Linked DNA regions of Homo sapiens: region 2 is linked to region 1. The links come from fine-mapping of genetic effects on gene expression. Tissue or cell type: blood mononuclear cells. Region 1 holds a variant in brackets; the other region holds the start of a gene. All regions are shown on one strand. Distances are from middle to middle.

What was found. PIP is the estimated chance that this variant, and not a neighbour inherited with it, causes the effect.
Region 2: it holds the start of MCMBP, and the variant in region 1 is fine-mapped to the expression of MCMBP in blood mononuclear cells (TOPMed, PIP 0.96). The same link has a PIP of 0.9 or more in monocytes.

What each region holds. Positions count from the first base shown.
Region 1 is chr10:119,841,178-119,851,280 of GRCh38, forward strand. It overlaps MCMBP (minichromosome maintenance complex binding protein), which reads right to left. Exons shown (of 16, transcript NM_001256378.2): 7 at 8,248-8,399; 8 at 6,436-6,536; 9 at 2,077-2,249; 10 at 1,295-1,418. Among named protein-coding and RNA genes, the nearest start is that of MCMBP, 27 kb to the right of the region's middle. RefSeq lists an enhancer at 9,320-9,819. The variant A/G (reference allele first, on the strand shown) is at 4,689.
Region 2 is chr10:119,867,760-119,877,862 of GRCh38, forward strand. MCMBP (minichromosome maintenance complex binding protein) reads right to left here and starts at 5,084. Exons shown (of 16, transcript NM_001256378.2): 1 at 4,768-5,084. The coding sequence starts at 4,825. RefSeq lists a silencer at 4,539-5,188 and enhancers at 5,419-5,578, 5,444-5,613.

The DNA of each region.
Region 1 (10,103 bases):
TGCTTCCTCATTTAACCCCTAACCATTCAGCGGTAGGTGCTGTTGTCTTTGCTTCACAGATGAGAAATCCGAGGCACAGAGATGATAATAAGCAACATGTTCATCTAAATGGAAGCTGACAGAGCTGGGATATGAATCCGGGTAGTTTGGTTCCAGAGCCTGTGCTCTCAACCATTATGTACTACTGTCACAGACTGATTTGAGAAAAGATAAGATTTACAGCACAAAGATGTTTCCTGCAACTTTATAATAGAGAAAAGCTAGGAAAAGCTAACATTTAGGGAAATGGTTACAGTATGGTACAACTGCATAGTGAAATACTTTGCAGCCACTACAAAGTTCATGAAGCATTATGATGGGAAAATGTTTAATATATATCAACTGCTGAAAACAAGACACGCATCTGTGCTTAGAGTGTAACTAAGACCTATGCAAGGATGTATACATATGTAAACAAAAACCAATGAACATGTACCTAAAGGTTAACGGAGGTTCTAAGTGGTGAAATTACAGATGATGTGCATTTTCCTCCTTATGTTCTTGGAACTTGTCAAAGGCCCACACTAGTTTTAAAATGAGAAACAAAGAAATACAGTGGAGTCAAGGGATGCGGTGCTAGTGTCAATGTCCACGTTAAACGTGCACATGACGTGGGCGCCTTGGGATGTATAAACAGAGCGTTCAGAATGCAAAAGGGATAAAACAGCTCATTTTACTCATCAGCCAGGTCCTTTATCTCAGGGGTCCCCAACGCCCAGGCCGTGGACCAGTACTGGTTCATGGCCTGTTAGGAACCGGGCCACAACATAGGAGGTGAGGGGTGGATGAGTGGGCATTACCGCCTGAGTTCCGCCTCCTGTCAGATCAGCAGTGGCATCAGACTCTCACAGGAGCGCGAACCCTATTGTGAACTGCACATCTGTGTGTTCCCTATGAGAATCTAACTAATGCCTGATGTTCTGAGGTGGAACGGTTTCATACTGAAACCATCCCCACTCCGGTCCATGGAAAAATGGTCTTCCATGAAATGGGTCCTTGGTGCCTAAAAGGTTGGGGACCACTGCTTTATCTGATTTTGGCTCTAAAATTTAAGGGGACATAATCAAAATGCTAAATGTGAACTGTGAGAAAAGGAATTTGTCTGTGATTTGGTATAACAGTTAACACTGGACAGATAAAAACCATGTGATGAAGCCCAATAAGGAAAACACACAAATGACACCAGCAATCTTCCCGCTCTTCCACTTCCACACACACCAAACTCCCCTAATTCCCACCAGGATACAGCACTTACACTGTGGAGATGAGATGTAATATAAGGTATTCAGCAGCCAAACTATCCCCCAGAAGGGCATGAGTAAGGAACCCAAGAAGTTCTGCTCTGACTGGAGACAATTCGGACATGAAACTTGAAACAACTGAAGGAGAAAGGAAGACCTGAGTCAGGACACACACTCCAGTTCCTCTCAAGTGTCTTAGGTAAAAAAATAACTACGTGAGCAAAGCACAATTCAGTCGACAGTAGGTAAAGCTTAACATATCCGTCAGTAAGTGATGCTAATCTTAAAAATAAGGCAGTTTGCATCCTCCTTTTTTTTTTTTTTGAGACCAAGTTTTGCTCTTTTTGCCTAGCCTGGAGTGCAATGGTGCCATCTCAGCTCACCGCAACCTCTGCCTCCAGTTCTCCTGCCTCAGCCTCCCGAGTAGCTGGGATTACAGGCACACGCCACCACACCTGGCTAATTTTGTATTTTTAGTAGAGCCAGGGTTTCACTATATTGGCCAGGCTAGTCTCGAACTCCTGACCTCAGGTGATCCACCCACCTTGGCCTCCTAAAGTGCTAAGATTACAGGCGTGAGCCACTGCACCCAGCCTTGTATACTCTTTTGTCCTCATTTCAGTGAAGAGAATTAATGTAAGAGAAAAATGGGGCAACGAGAGAGAGATTACTGAAAACACTTATTGTGAGGAATGAAGACCTGACTCTCAATTCCACTATGAGCACGTTACAGGCAGCTCTGGACACACTGAGGCTAACAGTCGATAGTTGACTAGGCTGTAACACTTACACTTACAGGTTTTGCTCTCCTCTTTGTTAAGGCAGGCAGGCAATAATGGGTTGATGTGTTGCAACTTCTGGGCTAAGATCACATGAATTCTCGGCACTAATGAAGCAGGAGGACTGTGTACTCTCTGCTCCTCTGCTGTGTCTGTGCACTCCATCGGATCCAGCAGTGCAGAGGCATCCCTGTGGAGAGGTGATAAAGTTTCAATTTAGAGAGACATCAATTGCACAGATGCAAAAATAATGTGCATCTTGGAAAACAAAATTAGAGTTAAAGCCAAGAATATTTCCACCTGTACATCTCCTTAAAGAACAGAAAGTGGCCTCTCATTCTAAAGTGTTACATCACACAGACTTCAGGCTTGTTAAGACATATCATGAAATAATGCATTTATTCAATTTTTCAAGAACGGTATTTTTATTTTTATTTTTTTTTTGGATGGAGTCTCACTGTGTTGCCCAGGCTGGAGTGCAGTGATGCGATCTTGGCTCATTGCAACCTCTGCCTCCTGGGTTCAAGCGATTCTCATGCCTCAGCCTCCTGAGTAGCTGAGATTACAGGTGCACACCACCATGCCTGGCTAATTTTTGTATTTTTAGTAGAGACAGGGTTTCACTATGTTGGCCAGGCTGGTCTCGAACTCCTGACCTCAAGTGATCTGCCTGCCTTGGCCTCTCAAAGTGCTGGGATTACAGGCGTGAGCCACCATGCCTGGCCAGAAACAATAATATTTGTTATTCAGCACTTCAATAAATGGAATGTAGGATGTCACTCATAAGGCTATTTCAAAACACAGGTACTCCTTGAACTATTGGCCGGGACATCGAATACTTGACAGCAGATCTCAAAAACTGGGGTCTTTTTCTCAAAAGCCATCTGGTATCTATTATTCAGCGTGTGGAGAATCCATTCATCTCTTATCTTGCTAATTGTTTTTCCTAAATTTAATTCTTACATGATCCCTCGAAGACTGAGTAGACAAGCAATGAAAGTATGAATTTTTCAGACTTGCTAAATAAATCTGCAGATGATAGATTTGTGAGACGACCAAAACAAATAGCTAATCTTTTAGATCTTGACTTTATAGAATCTATAGACACTGAAGTAATAAATTCATACTCCTGTATTTTTTAATACAAGCATAATAACCTTTTCCATAGTACGTACCATGTGACAGACAACGTTCAATGCCTTACACGTACAAATTCACCAAAACCTCACATCTACCCTTATTTACAATGAGGAAACCAAGCCCAAGGTGACATAGCTAGTAAGTGGCCAAGTCAGGACTCCAACCCAGGCTGCCTGCCTGTCTGTGCTCTTAACCTCTGTGATGGTTAATACTTTGTCAATCTGACTGGATTGAAGGATGAAAATTATTGTTCCTGGATGTGTCTGTGAGGGTGTTGCCAAAGGAGATTAACATTTGAGTCAGCGGGCTGGGAGAGGCAGACCCACCCTCAGTCTGGGTGGGCAGCATCTAATCAGCTGCCAGCATAAAGGCAGGCATGTAAAGAGCAGACTGGCTGAGTCTTCCGCCTCCACCTTTCTCTCATGCTGGATGCTTCCTGCCCTCAAACATCAGACTCCAAGTTCTTCAGCTTTTGGACTCTTGGACCTACACCAGTGGTTCACCAGGAGCTCTTAGGCCTTCAGCCACGGACTGAAGCCTACACTGGTGGCTTCCCTACTTTTGAGATTTTGGGACTCAGGCTGGCTTCCTTGCTCCCCAGCCTATTGTGGGATTTTACCTTGTGATCATGTGAGTCATTCTCCTAATAAACTCCCCTTCATATATTCATCTATCCTATCAGTTCTGACCCTTTAGAGACCCCTAATACAACCTCTAAACTAAACTACATCAATAGTGAAGTAACTAAAGCAGGAAAGTCATCACAATCAGAAATTGCCAAGATGAACAATCTCATATACTATTATTAAGGGACGGTTAAGCTTATTTAAAGTTGTTTAAAATTTTTGTTTTGTACCATTTTTTTTTAACTGTGAAAAATGTTAAGTTCATCCTACACAGAAACTAAGATGATTAATGTCCGGTATTCAACAAGAGGACTCTGGTGTAGATGAGGGACATCAGCCCTTGCTTTTGGCAATCTCAAAACAAAACAAAAATGAATGAGGAAGGTCTAGATTTCCAAGATATGTTGTTAATAAAAAAAATTAAAAAGTGTAAGAGTATATATACCATGTTACCTTTTATAGAAGAAAAAGGTAGAAATAAAATGTATACGTATCTTCATATTTTTGTAAAAAAATAAATACAGGAAGGATAAACCAGAAACTGTGGTTCCCTAAGGAGGCTGGGTGGGAACAGACAGCAGGAATGGGGATAGCCGAGAATGACACCTCTGAGAATCTTTCTAAGTAAAATAAATAATGAAATCACACTGAAGGGGAAGAAAAGTTACCTGAGTAAGTGGAACATAGCTCTGACTACACAGCTGCATTCTAAAATAAAAATGAACTGGAAATGTATTGAACTCTAATTACTAGGTTTCTGTTTTGTAGTGGTATGGGTTACCAATTCTGAAATTCCCTTCTGTATATGGTAGAAATGGGGAAACAACAGATTGTGAATAATGGGAATCAAATTTGTTAGAAAA[A/G]GAAGTCATAAATATAGAAAGGAGAACAACTAGAACATGTGACTCCTGCTGTGCTGAACTGGAATCAGAAATATGAACCCATGGTTTTTCACAGACATTAGAAATACACAAAACATGCATGTGAGTGTGTATGTGTGCATTTAAATGTGGGTGCGTATATATGTATCCATATGCTGCATGTATCCTAGCTCTGTCTACTTTAAGGGCCTAGATGCAAATCTAATCCAGTACCAACGAGCACATCTAGGACTCAGATCTTCAAAGCATACGATGAAGCTGCAACAGCTTAATATGCCAGAAAATAAATGTTAAAAAATGATAACATCATCTCAAAAAAAGGACCCGGCACCTGCTTAAAGTGGCTCCCACTAGCCAAATCTGGGAAAATTTGGGTCTCGAAATAAAATAATGATATTAACATTGAATAAAATCAGAATCTATTAGTCTATACTAAATATAAGTAAATACATTACTTGAATAAACAAATGGAAGAGGTATCTTTTATAGTAGAATGCCAATAAATAAATGTACTGCGTTAGAAAATTGCCAACAAAGTAATAACTGATTCAAGCAAGAATCATCAATGAATGCTAAAATAAATTGGTGAAAGTTTAATGAGAAACTGGATATTTATGTCCCCAAGTACCTTCCTCCAAGTTACTTGTCAATTACAAAGTGAGAAATGTAACTTTACAGAAGAGACATCTGGAAGTCACCACCTTAACCAACTAATGAAAATTAACCTCACCAGTAAAGGGACAAACTGACATCGCATGCCTCCTGCTGTAACATACTGAGGATACATCAATTCTGTAATATTCCTGCCAAAAATGCAAAACATTGAGTCTAACCATGAGGAAACAAGTAACTGGTAACTGGCTTACACTCTTCAAAAGCATCAAGGCTGTCTGCTCTCTACCACGTGAGAAGACAGCCATCTGTAAACCAGGAAGCGGGCCCTCACTAGAAACCAGATCTGCTGGGAACTTGATTTTGGACTTCCCAGCCTCCAGAACTACTGGAAGACATATATTTCTGTTGTTTAAGGAAAAAAAAAAAGTGGCAAGACCATGAAAGACAAAGGCTGAGGACTGTTTCAGATTGAACTCTAGTTATTTAGGTTTATGTTTTGTAAAGGTATGAGTTAACAATTCTGAAATTCCCTTCTCTATGTTGTAAAAATGTGCAAATGATAAGATTGTGAAAAATGGGAATCAAGTTTAAGAGAGTTACACTAATACAGAAAGGAGAACAAGCAGAACGACACCTGTGGTGCTGAACTGGAATCAGAAATACAGTATGAACTCAGTAGAAATAGAGAATGAGCGAGCTTCTGAACCCTGGACTGGGGGATGCAGAAGGGAGACGTGTAAGAAAGAACATGATTAAGACAATTAGTGAAATTAAGTATAGATTGTGGATTAGTGTATTGTATATTTGTGGCAAATTTCCTAGTTTTGATACCTGTACTCTAATTATATATGAGAAAGTCAGTACTCTTAGGAAATGTTGACAAGCAGTTAGGGGTAAAAGGGCTTGATTTCTGCAACATACTTTCAAGTGTTTCAGAAAAATGTGTGCATAGAGAGCACAAATGAATGACAAAACACATGGGGTGCAAGTGTTTACAACTGGTACATCTGGGAGAAAGGGAAAAGGGAGTTCTTTAAAACCATCCTGTAACTCTCCTGAAAACTTGAAATTATATAAAAATAAAGGAGACCAAAAAAAGAGCACACAGACTCACCTTTCATCATTATTCAGTATACTCAGCACAGGATCCACAGACAGTATGCCATATAGCTCAAGAATGTCATTTACTTTGAAACAATCCCAATCTTCATAAACCTAACAAGAGACCACATGAAATCACACTGTTAGAACAGACACAAAGCTTAAGATATTAGTCTTGAAGTACCAATATCTTGGAATTTTAGATCAGGAAACAGACCTTAAAGCAAGTCCTTTATTTTATAAATTTTTATAAATTGAGACCAAGAGTCATTCTGCTAGTTAGCAAATAAGTGAAAAACCAAAACACAGGATGCCTAACTTCCAGACTAATGTCTGTTTTCAATATACCACAGTACTACAAAAAAAAAAGGCTTTTCCTAAAATTAAAAAAAGCCTTTTCCCAAAGGCTGACAGTTAAAACTAGAACTGTGCACTATCTCAAAACCTATTAAACCACACCAAGAAAAGGAAAAAACAAAAACAAGATGATTAACTTTGCATTTATTCATAAACTGCAACATCGGATTAACACAAAACTTGGAATGGCCAGAAGATTTTTCACAATTTAAAAAAAAAAAAAAACCTTTCAAAATTGTCTGTCATGATGGACTTAGTAATAGTCAAGGCCATTTACTGATTAGACCTGGTAGAAGCAAGGCAGGGGAAAAAATGGTAATTTTGGTCCCTGTGCCATATGACTTAAGTGTCATTTCAGTTAAAACCACTGAGAATCTGGGTGCAGTGGCTCACCCCTGGAATCCCAGAACTTTGGGAGGCTGAGGTGGGTGGGTCACTTGAGGTCAGGAGTTCGAGACCAGCCTGGCCAACATAGTGAAACCCCATCTCTACAAAAAATATAAAGAACGAGCTGGGTGTGGTGGTGCATGCCTGTAATCTCAGCTACTCAGGAGGCTGAGGCACGAGAATTGCCTGAACCCAGGAGGTAGAAGTTGCAGTGAGCCGAGATCGTGCCACTGCACACCAGCCTGGACAAGAGAGTGAGACTGCCTCAAAAAAACAAACAAAAAAACCCCCCAAAAACAAAAAAACCCAAAATGCACAAAGAATAAGGATAGAAATCCTTAACAATCATTTCTGAACCTTCTATCACTTGCTCATTTATCAGGATCAAAACACTAGAATAAGTAAGATGGAAGAACAAACTATTAAAAGTTTTCTTCCTTCTGTTTTATTTTAAATATAAGTGAAAAATAGGTTTTGCTGAGAGAAGGAAGAAGACAAAAATGAAGAAGATATTATGTTAGAAATGATACAGGAAGGGAACAGACATAATTTAAAAGTTGTTCTGCTTCTGCATTTGAGATGTTCTTCGATTCTTTTAACTTGTTAGCTTACATGCAAAAGGAATGTGCAGGTGTGATTAAATTAATAACCTTGAAATGGGGGGGATTATCCTCGATTAACTGGCTGGGCCCCATGTAATCACACGGATTCTTAAAATTGGGGAAACTTTCTTGGTTGTGGTCAGATGAGATGTCAACATGAAAAAAATGGTCAGACAAATGCAATGTTGCTGGCTATGAATATGGAAGAAGGAGCCACAAGGCCAAGGAAATTCTCCCTTAGGGGCTCCGAGAAAGGAATGTAGCCCTGCTGGCACCTCGAGTTTACCCCAGTGAGACCATGTTGGATTTCTGACCTAAAGCCTGTAAGATGATAAACTTTTGCTGCTTTAGGCTATTAAATTTGCAGTGATTTGCTATAGCTAGCCCAGCACAAGGGAACAAATGCAAATGCTCAGACACTAAGCTACTTTCTGAGACACATAACATTTCAGTGTTGGATCTACGAAAGGTTTTATTACCTTCACAAGGCATGCAGGGCCCTTCTCTCCTGGCAATGGAAAATTCAAATCAAAAGGAGAAGACAAGTTCAGAGAGTTCAGCTGTTGCCCAGTAGAAGCTTCAGTTTCTAAACGTTTTGGCTCTCCACACCATTGAAGACCACCAACACTCCCTAAATTCAAAGGATAGCATTGCACTTAGTCATTTCTAAGGCCTCCTGGAGAAAAAGAACATTCCATAAGTGCCTTTCAAGTTTGATATACGTGATGCTTCTGAGCTTGCAAAGTTCAAGTTGTTACAGTTTTTAAGGAAACAGCACATACTAACAAAGTCTTTTGTTTGATCTGTAAGAGGACAAAGATAAACATGAAGATCTAAAAATTTTACTTTTTTTTCCCTTACTGTAAGATATCAACAAATTCCTCCCATCAAATCTCATGTATAACCAGTTTCAAAAGTTGATTTGCAATATGGTTACTTTGACATCTTTGATTTAAGGAATACATGGTCTACCGACAGCAAAACTCCTTGGTAGAACATACTTTTTCTATTAATTAAGCAGAATAAAACCATACAGCAATAAATTAATTTACCAAATACTTATTAATATCCAGTATGTACCAGGAATCAAACCAGTTGTTGGGGATATACAGGTCATTAAAAGAATAACCCCAACTCCTGAAGTAGTTACACTTTAGGGCTGATAACATGAGAATCAAATTATAGCCTGCCATACCACGAAACACCACTCAGCAATAAAACGGACAAACTACTGATACATGCAACAATTGGGATGGATCTCAAGGGAATTGTGCTGAAGAAAAGACAATCCCCAAAGTTTATGTAATATACAATTCCATTCTTAAAATGACAAAATTATAAGAGATGGAGAAGAGACCAGTGGTTGCTAGGGTCTAGAGACTTCTGGGGACGGAGGAGGCAGGAGAGTGGTAGTTAGGAGCATAAAAGGGCAACATGAGAGATCTGGGTAATGAAATATTCCCGATTTTAACTGTGGTGGTGGTCACATGAATCTACCTATGCGATAAAACTGCAAAGAACAGGCCAGGTGCAGTGGCTCAAGCCTGTAATCCCAGCACTTTGGGAGGCTGAGGCAGGTGGATCACGAGGTCAGGAGATTGAGACCATCCTGGCTAACACGGTGAAACCCCGTCTCTACTAAAAATACAAAAAATTAGCCAGGCGTGGTGATGGGGGCCTGTAGTCCCAGCTACTCGGGAGGCTGAGGCAGGAGAATGGCGTGAACCCAGGAGGCGGAGCTTGCAGTGAGCAGAGATTGCACCACTGCACTCCAGTCTGGGTGACAGAGCAAGACTCCGTCTAAAAAAAAAAAAAAAAAGGAAAAAAAATGATTGTATCAATATCCACTTCCTGGTTATGACATTCTACTATAATTACGTAAGGTATTACCACTGGGGGAAGTAGAGGCTAAAAGGTATACAAGATCTGTTTTTTTTTTTTTTTTTTGAGACAGAGTCTCACCCTGTCACCCAGGCTGGAGCATGGTGGCGATCAGCGCTCACTGCAACCTTCGCCTCCCGGGTTCAAGCAATTCTCCTGCCTCAGTCTCCCAAGTAGCTGGGATTACAGGCGTGCACCACCATGCCCAGCTAATTTTTGTATTTTTAGTAGAGATGGGGTTTCACCATGTTTGCCAGACTGGAACTCCTGACCTCAAGTGATGTGCCTGCCTCGGCCTCCTGAAGGGCTGGGATTATAGGTGTGAGCCACCGCAACCAGCCTCTCTGTATTATTTCTTACAACTGCATGTAAGTCTATACTGTGTCAAAATAAAAAGTTTAAAAATATGTATAGCCTAAAACATTGACTAAACACCAACAAGTGTTACTTTATA
Region 2 (10,103 bases), 27 kb after region 1:
CACTCAGTCTCTTCGAATACCCAACCACTTCCCCTGTTCTTGGGTTTTATAGCCTTAATATAAATTAACTTTTTTCAGTGGCCTACCAAGGACAGAGTGGTAGAAGAGGTCCAAGCTGGGTACAGACAATAAGGGCACAGATTGTCTGTTTAGATTCATGGTGATAATAAAAAGCAGACCAACTAACTTTTAGTTCATTTTATTATTGCTTTAAATTCTCTAAAATGCTAGTGATAAAATAGTCTGCTCTGCCCCTCTTCACCCAACCCTGCTCTTTTTTGCATGAGCTAGTCTAGTTCTGTTAGATACAACCAAAGAAGCTTAAATATAACGAGAATAATGATCTTGGTCTAACCAATAGTTGAAGGGAAAACAGCTAAAGAGGCTGGGCGCAGCAGCTCACACCTGAGATCTCAGCACTCTGGGAGGCCAAGTGGGGGCAGATCACTTGAGGCCAGGAGTTCAAGACCAGCCTGGCCAACATGGCAAAACCCTGTCTCTATTAAAAATAGAAAAATTAGCCAGGCATGGTGGTGCACACTTTTAATCCCAGCTACTCGAGAGGCTGAGGCATGAGAATGGCTTGAACCCAGAAGGCGGAGGTTGCAGTGAGCCGAGATCACGCCACTGCACTCCACCCTGGGCAACAGAGCAAGACACTGACTCCAGAAAAAAAGAAAAGAAAAATTTTGAGATTTGTGATCTCACTAGCCATTTCAATTAACAACATTTCTGATTAATCAGTCTTTTCACTGCTTTTGTTCAACAAGTGTCCACTGAGCACTTTCAATGTACAAGGCAAATTCTAAGAAATTAGGATACAGTGGTGAATAATGCAGATACAGGGGCCCTGAATTCGCGGGGTCAAAATCCAGCAAAGGAACTTCCGAAACAAGGAATTTCAACAATGCACTTTACACACTATTTTTCAAAGACATATATAATAGGATCCTGCAGTAACATGGAGCAGGGGTACCCTACTTTGGTACCTAACTTAAGTTCCCAAAGGAAAAGTAAGACTTAGCCAGAAAAGTGGACATGGGATGGGAGGGGGAATCAGGCACAAGAAATCAGCAGATGCAAAAAGGCCTAGACACAGGTTCAAAATTAAAGAACTGAAAAAAGGTTCAGTGCGGCTGGGATGGAGTATGAGGAGGGGGTACGCAGTGATAAAGTCTCAGAGCAAGGCAAGGGTGGAGCCAACAAGGGCCTCATAAACCACTTTAAAAGTCCTGGATCAGATAGTAAGGGTAACAAGAAGTCACTGAAGGACTTGGTTCCAGTATGGCAGGTGGAAGAGAAGCAAGACTGGAGGCAAGAAACCAGTTAGAGGGCTGTTCCAGCGTCCAGGAAAGAGACTACGATGGCTTTAATTTTGACAGTAGCATTGGAGATGAGGGTCTGGGTCGGGCGCGGTGGCTCACGCCTATAATCCCAGCACTTTGAGAGGCCGAGGCAGGCAGATCACCTGTTCGAGACCAGCCTTGCTAACATGGTGAAATCCTGTCTCTACTAAAAATACAAAAATTAGCGGCTCGGTGTGGTGGCTCACGCCTACAATCCCAGCACTTTGGGAGGCCAAGGTGGGCGGATCACTAGGTCAGGAGTTCAAGACCAGCCTGGCCAACATGGTGAAACCCTGTCTTTACTAAAAATACAAAAATTAGCTGGGCATGGTGGCATGCACCTGTAATCCCAGCTACTCAGGGGGCTGAGGCAGGAGAATCACTTGAACCCAAGAGGCAGAGGCTGCAGTGAGCCAAGATTGTAACACTGCGCCCTAGCCTGAGTGACAGAGCAAGACTCAGTCTCAAAAAAAAAAAAATTAGCTGGGCATGGTGGCAGGCACTTGTAATCCCAGCTACTCCAGAGGCTGAGGCAGAATTGCTTGAACCTGGGAGGAGGAGGTTGCAGTGAGCCGAGATCACACTGTTGCACTCCAGCCTGGGTGACAAGAACGAAACTCCATCTCAAAAACAAAAAAAGCAAAAACAAAAACAAAACCCCTAGAACGGATAAGATACAGTGACCAAATTCAGATCCTGAAAGAGAGTCAGTGAGTAGCTGGTTATCCAAAAAAACTAGCATCACATACTAAAAAGCGGTGTCCTCTAGATCAGTGCTGTACAGAGAACTTCCTGATGTTAGGAATATGCTAGATCTGTGCTAATATAATAGCCCCTATCCACATGTAGCTACTGAGCACTTGAAATGTGCTAACACCGAGGAGGTGAATTTTTAATTTTGTGTAATTTTAATTAATTTACATTTAAATAGCCACACATGGCTACTGCCCTGGACAGCACACTCTAGATTATTGTGACACCTAACTTAAAATATATGACAGGGTTAATAAGTTTATACAATACTATATGACAAGGACAGTAAGAAAGGGAAAAATTCAGGCTGCTGGATGCAGTGGCTCACGCCTGTAATCCCAGCACTTTGAGAGGCCGAGGCGGGCGGATCACGAGGTCAAGAGATCTAGACCATCCTGGCCAACACTGTGAAACCCCGTCTCTACTAAAAATACAAAAATTAGCCGGGCGTGGTGGCGCGGGCCTATAGTCTCAGCTACTCCGGAGGCTGGGGCAGGAGAATCGCTTCAACCCAGGAGGCGGAGGTTGCAGTGAGCCGAGATTGCGCTACTGCACTCCAGCCTGGGTGACAGTGCGAGACTGTCTCAAAAAAAAAAAATGCATATTTCAAAATAAAATACACAACAAAACTTAACTTTTCAGTTTAAAAAAACTGTCTAAATATATGCAGAGAAAATAAACTACACAACCACGAACCAGTGGTTATCTTGAAGGTGAAGGATCTTCAAAGATCTTTCCTTTTCTGCTATATGTTGCTGAACTGCTTTTTTCTTTCTGTACAATGCATATGCATTACCTATCTGGGGGGAAAACAATTTCCTACTAAACCAAAAAGTGCCTATAAGTTATCACACAAACATACTTGTAATGCTGTTATAATAAAGATATGCAATACAATCACAGTGATACGAAAATATAGCAACAGCTTCTACGAACACATTATGACTTTTCTATAAGACACAACGTACACGGGAACAAGACATTCTGGGGAGAAACACATCAAGAAACTTCTCAGGTTCCCACAACAATCCACATAATTTATAAAATACTCTGAAGCTATTATTTTATATCTAAGTTACATCCTTCCTGTACTATGATGAGATGTGTCCCTTAGGATCATACATTTAGAAGACAAAATTTGACACAAATACATTCAAATCTCTATCAAATATGAAATCATCTCATTTATCCAGCAAAATCAGAGTATGGGGTATTTCTAATAAATAAACTTTCTAATATTAGTAACTGAAATTTAACCCTTTAAGCACCAAACCTTTTTACTTTGGAGGGATTTTTCCTAAAAAGTATCTATGCATCTGCACCCTCTTAAACCAATGCTACAATTGAATCTTCACTTGACATTTTGGGGCCATTGTGTTGACCATCGATTATCATTTCTAGAATTCTTATGAACATAAATTACTAGGATTTAGTGGAGAAATATATGCCCCTTCCTCAAAGCACCCTTGACTGCTATATAGTGAATTTTTTTTTTTTTCAAGTATGAAGGTAGTTTTAAATTTCTTCATCAGGCTGTCAGTGTTCACTGGCTAAGTTCGGACGTCTATCCAGGCTTTTTTCTAATATAATGCCATTAGTTACAGCCTGGGAAGCCAGGTAACTAAACTAATTAGAATTACAGGTAAATTAATAAGGACTTCCTGAGTAAGCACTAGAGGCCCTCCTATAAGAAATACCATACATTGTTTGCCGTCGATTTTGGCTGCTGAGGATGATTTAGCTTCCCACTGCCTTTTCTCTCTAGTACCCCAAGATGTTTTTTTCAATGAGCTAAGGCCGCTCTACAACTCTAAGTTAACTCCAGACAAGTCAGGTGTTGCCATCTACAGTGATTTCTAGCTGGATCTGACTCCGCCACTCATTACGTGTAAAAAGACACTGGGGAATGGAACGGTTGTCAAAATGCCCAGTTAACGACAACAAATATAAACTTTTCTTCGTATACCCTTCGCAGTAAAGTAGCAACAGCAATCGCAACCAAAATTTACTAAGCTCGCCTGCAGGATTCTCAGCCCTGTGTACAAACTCAAGTAGCTCAATATTTCTTGCTGGCTCTGGCACAGGAGCAGATCCAGACTAGATGGGTTCTAAAGTCATCCCAACAGGAAAACTAAGCTATGAACATTAAATCTTATCTCTGAAAGAGAGAATGAGGGTAGCACAGGAGTTAGAACCAACTTCTGTGCAAGCGAGCACTCCCCGACGCACCGGAAGTTTTGAAATATCCTGTGGGCTTCCCACAGGCAAAGTGGTTTTCCCTCCCCGCGGCTCTGCGGGCCCTCCCCAGGGTTCGAGGACCTCCGAGTTTGCTGCGCCCGGGGCCGGGGCCCTGGCCCTGCCACAGGCTGGGAGCGAGGCCGTCAATCACAGCCCGCGAATCACAGCCCGCGCCCCACGACTTCACCTTGGCGGCTCCCAAGCTGCGACTCGGGCAGGTGGGAGGTACCTGCGGCCCGGCTCCTGCCCCTGCCTGCTGCGACCGGGGGAGAGGCTGTCCCAGCTGGGGCCGGTGCAGGCCCCGGGGCCCCGTCTCGGGCCACGCGAGCCCTCGAGATGGTACCGCGTGGGGGCCGCGCGGCGGGGCCCTGCCCCGGGGCCCGGCAAACTCGGCTGCCCGCCCGGCCCGCCCCCCGGCGCCGCCACTCACCGAAGAATCCCTGCACGATTCCCAGCGGGTGGCTGAGCCAATCCTCCCCACACGGCATCTCGCCAGGGGCCGGGGCCGGCGAAGACCGGGCGGAGGCGATCCGCGGGCCGAGCGCGGCCGGGCGGCCGGCGCCCAGCTCCTCTTCAGCGGCTCGGCCGCTCCTCGCCCGCGTTCGCTCGCGCCCTCCCACGCACAGCGAGCCGCGGGGCGCGGGCCTCCCGCGCCTCAGGGAGCGGCGGCTGCGGTGGGGCCGCCGAGGAGCTGCTGGCGACAGTCAGGCGGGCGCGTACGGGCCCCTAGCCTTCACTTCGCACAATGGCGGGAAATAGCCGCCGCCGACCGCGCTGCCTGCGACCTGGGTGGAGCTCGCGTGGGGAGGGGCGGCGGGAGCGCGCGGCGCAGCGCGGCTCTGCGCGGCGAGGAGGAGGGGCGGCGGCGGCGCCGCCATCTTGGAGACGGGCAAAAGGAAGGGCACGCAGCGCCGCTGGAGGCTGCGCAGCGCGGGGCCCGGCGACGCGCTCCAAGGGCGGCGCGTTGTCGTTTGTACCCCTGGGCCGGCGTGTAGCGGGAACTCCCATAGTGGGCTTATAAGAGGGCAAAGCGAGTCTGCACAACAGCTGAAAAGCATTAAGCTCAGAGACCTCAGAGTCATCTCTGGGCAAAATTAGTGGGCGAAACCGCCTTGGGAATCCGCCCACCTCCTCTTCGTGCCTTTTTTTTCTTTTTTTGCTGATGGCAGCACTTTTATTTGGGTCCCCGGCCCGAAACCCTGAGTGGTGACTTTTCCCTCAGCTGCACAAGGTCTCCCTGAGGAAGGTGCACATTTAGAGAAGGGGAACCTCGGAGGACCCCACGCTCCTTCTGCAGTCGCGTCAGGCCCTGTGGCTCAGGGACGGTTCCTTACCGAGGGGCGGGCGCTCTAAACGCTCCGGGCCCGGCCTGCGCCCTGGTTGCGAACACCGGGTCGGCGTCTGTCTGGAAGCTGGCAGCCGCCGTCGGGGAGCGGTGCGAGGCTCCTGCACTGCGCGCCGCTAGGATACCCTGGAGAAGGAAGCTACGAAGACCGACTACAGCAGCCTTTTGCTGAGGCAATTTGGAAAATACCCAAGTTCAAGAGTGAAACTGTGGGAGTCGCTCTGAACCTCTTCTGGTTCAGGAGGCTGTCCGATAAAAAAGAAAAAAAGAATGAAACTGTGTCTCCCCTGGGCCTGAAATGTACCTAAGAAAACCCCAGGCCCATCAGATATATCTACTCAATGAAAAAAGGGCATGGTGACGGAAGGGGAATGACCTGAATGGAATCTACAAAGTGAGGAGCTGAAGGAAAAAAACGGAACCCGTGTCTCAAACCCTCCTTGGGGCTGTAGGAAGGGGGGAAAATCTTTCTACCTTTCTAGGTTCTCCACTGCGGCCCTTATCACAAAGCTCGGATTGGCAAAAGAAAAATTTAGTAACATGTACATCTTATATGGGCAAAACTCAAGGAAGAGTAACTCAAACAGGTGGCTTAGAATGGGGGAATTACGTAGCATTTACAATAAAGAACAATAACTGGGGAGAAATGGCGAAAGCAGTTTGAAGTTTCCAAAAACAGCAGAGTGGGAAGGCAGAGATACGAGAAACTAATGGTAGTTACAGGTAGTGAGTAAAGTGTGTTATGTAGGTTCTTCTAGCGCCATCGCTGGCTGATAAGGGTCTAAAGTTGTCTCTGGTGACTAACTTTTGTCCCTGGTAGAAAGAGGAGGTGGGACACCTTTGAAAATGTATGTCCTGCTCTTAGGTACATAGTGGAAGGGTAGGGAGCTTGTTTTGTACAGATGCTCCTCTACTTACTCTACTTAGGATGGAGTTACATCCCAATAAACCCATTGTAAATTGAAAATATCATTAGTTGAGGCCCAGCGTGGAGCCTCACTCCTGTAATCCCAATACTCTGGGAGGCCAAGGCGGGCGGATCATGAGGTCAAGAAATGGAGACCATCCTGGCCAACATGGTGAATCCCCATCTCTACTAAAAATACAAAAATTAGCTGGGCCTGGTGGCGCACGCCTGTAGTCCCAGCTACTCTGGAGGCTGAGGCAGGAGAATCACTTGAACCCGGGAGGCGGAGGTTGCAGTGAGCCAAGATCATGCCACTGCACTCCGGCCTGGTGACAGAGCGAGACTCCGTCTCAAAAAAATAAAATGTCATTAGTTGAAAATGTGTTTAATACACGGAACCTATCAAACATCAGTAGGCTACTGCAAACATGCTCAGAACACTTACATTAGCCTACGGTTGGGCAAAAGCATCTAACACAAAGCCCGTTTTATAATAAAATGTTGAATATCTCATGCAATTTATTGAATACTGTACTGAAATTTAAAAACAGAATGGCTGTGTGGGTAATTGAAGTATGGTTTCTACTGAATGGGTGTTGCTTTCACACCATCATAAAGTCAAAAAATCTTGTCAAACCACCGTTAAGTTGGGGACTGTCTGGATCTACTTTTCAGTTACCAAGATAATAATATTATAATTAAATTAATAATATGAAAATAATCCTTATGCCAAAGTGGCACATTTTGGGGTGACATTCTGGTTTACTTCAGGGCAAAAACGAATAGTTTGTATTTCTTAGTGTAAGGTAATTAATTGACACACTCAATTGTACATCTGGTTCCTGTGAGTTTGGGTACGTTGAGAAAACTTGAGTTTCAAATCCAGGTCATTACCACCATTCCATTCATTCATTTAAGAGACAGGGTTGCCAAGACCCTGGCATCAAAAGGGGAAATCCCATATTTTCGCTTCATGGCCAGTAACAGGCAAATTAAATGTATGATATGGAAATGTCTGCTCTTAAATCCCTGTAAATTCAAATTTACTTTATCTAAATTGCAGCTTGATACCAATTCAGCAGTGGCTAGTGTAAGGGAGGAAAAATATCTTTTCCGTCTACCCTTCTAGATTCTACGTTGGACCCCCTGTAACAAAAGATAGATTAACAAGAGAAAAGCATGCACTTTATTTCATACACGTTTTACAAGAAATGGGAGCCTTCATAAGGAAATGAAGATCCAAAGAAGCGTTAAAACCAAGTGTTTTTATGCTAGGTTTGATGAAGAGAGTCATAGAAGAATGTGATAGGACAAAGGTTGTGAGCTAAGTCCAGCAAACTAGGGGAAATTTAGCAAGGCCTGTGCATTAGATTCCTTTCCGTGTCCCTTCATCTTTAAGATAGGATGCTCCTGTCCTCCAGGAAGAGGGAGGGCAGCTCTCATGTCAGGGTCTTATAATCTGCTTCAGGGGAAGGCCAGGGAGCCTTTCCTGCATGTGCTATTTCTCAAATTCCTTCAGCTTAAAATACTTAATATGCCAAGGTGCCATATTTTGGGGTAGCAAGTCGTGAATCCCATCTCTGTGAAAACTTCTTTTGGTTTCTTCCTTGGTAGAGTATTTAGTGATTTATAAAAAAAAAATTGCTCGGATTTTACTTAAGGAGACACTGTGATCCTTCTGAAATGTAATTATTTTATAATGTGAATAATTTAACCCTCTGATTTTTCTGTGGCAAGACGTTTTGATACTAAGTAGTTATGGAGCTGGGGGAGGTAGTGTGCACTTGTAGTCTCAGATACTTGGGAGACTGAGGTGGGAGGATCACTTGAGCCCAGGAGTTCGAGGTTACAGTGAACTATGATCGCACCACTGCACTCCAGCCTGGGAGACAGAGGAACACTCCATTTCTAAAAATAATAACAATGACAATAATAATAAGTAGTCATGAAAATGTAAAAGGCCAGGGGAGTGTTCATGAAGGTCTGTTTCTATGGCAAGATTTCTTTTTTCCCACTATCAGTAACCACACTTCTGCCCCGACCGCGAGCCTGTATTTTTATGGAGGGCATTAAGTAACTCTGTCTATAAAAAATTACTGAGAGAGCAGCCAGGCGCGGTGGCTCACGCCTGTAATCCCAGCACTTTAGGAGGCCGAGGCGGGCGGATCACGAAGTCAGGAGATCGAGACCATCCTGGCTAACATGGTGAAACCCCGTCTCTACTAAAAAAAAATACAAAAAATTAGCTGGGCGTGGTGGCACGTGCTGGTAGTCCCAGATACTTGGGAGGCTGAGGCGGGAGAATTGGGGGAACCCTGGGGGTGGAGGTTGCATTGAGCCGAGAGCGTGCCACTGCACTCTAGCCTGGGCGACAGAGTGAAACTACGTCTCAAAAACAAACAAAAAAACAAAAACAAACAAAAAAATTACTGAGAGAGCACTGGAAATATGGGGTGAAAAAAGAGATTCCATCTCTGCCCTCATGGAACATACAGTCTAGCAGAAGACTTATTACTAATTACTCACGAGAGGTGCTAGGCAAGAATAGATGAATATTTATAAGAGGAATAAACAGATGTGTATATGTTCTAGTGAGGGAATGCTAAGGGTTGAATGTGTCCCCCAGAGTTTGGGTGTTGGAAACTTAATCCCCAATGCAACAGTGTTGAGAGGTAGGAACTTTAAGGGGCAGGGGCAGGGCCCTTATGAAGGGATTAATGTCACTATTGCAGGAGTGGGTTGGTTATAAAAGTGAGTTTGGCTCTTTCTTCCGCGTGTGTGCAGGCACGCACAGACACACACTCACACACATGCGTGCTCTTGCTTATGCTCTTTCACCTTCTCTCACCCTTTTTCCCTTTGCCTTATGATGATGCAGCAAGAAAGCCCTTGTCAGATGCCAGCATGTTGATATTGAACTTCCCAGCCTCCAGAACTGTGAGAAATAAATTTATTTATTTATTATTATTATATATATTTTTGAGACAGAGTTTGGCTCTTATTGCCCAGGCTGGAGTGCAATGGCGCGATCTTGGCTCACCGCAACCTCCGCCTCCCAGGTTCAAGCGATTCTCCTGCCTCAGCCTCCTGAGTAGGTGGGATTACAGGCATGTGCCACCATGGCCGGCTAATTTTGTGTTTTCAGTAGAGACGGGGTTTCTCCATGTTGGTTAGGCTGGTCTCAAACTCCTAATCCCAGGTGATCCGCCTGCCTCAGCCTCCCAAAGTGCTGGGATTAGAGGCGTGAGCCACCGCGCCCAGCCAATAAATTTTCTTTATAAATTACCCAGTCTGTGGCAATGTTATGGCAGCACAAAATGCTCTAAAACAAGAGAATGGGGAAGAATTGTGGGGTAGGAGAAAAGGATGCTTCAGGGCTTCTCTGAAAATGTGACACTTACACTAGAATTTGAAAGATAAATAACAGTAAATTAGGTGAAAATTGTGGGGGAAAGATTTTTAAGCTTTAAGACTGCAAAAACAAAAACTTGTACAGGAAAACTAAAATAGTTAC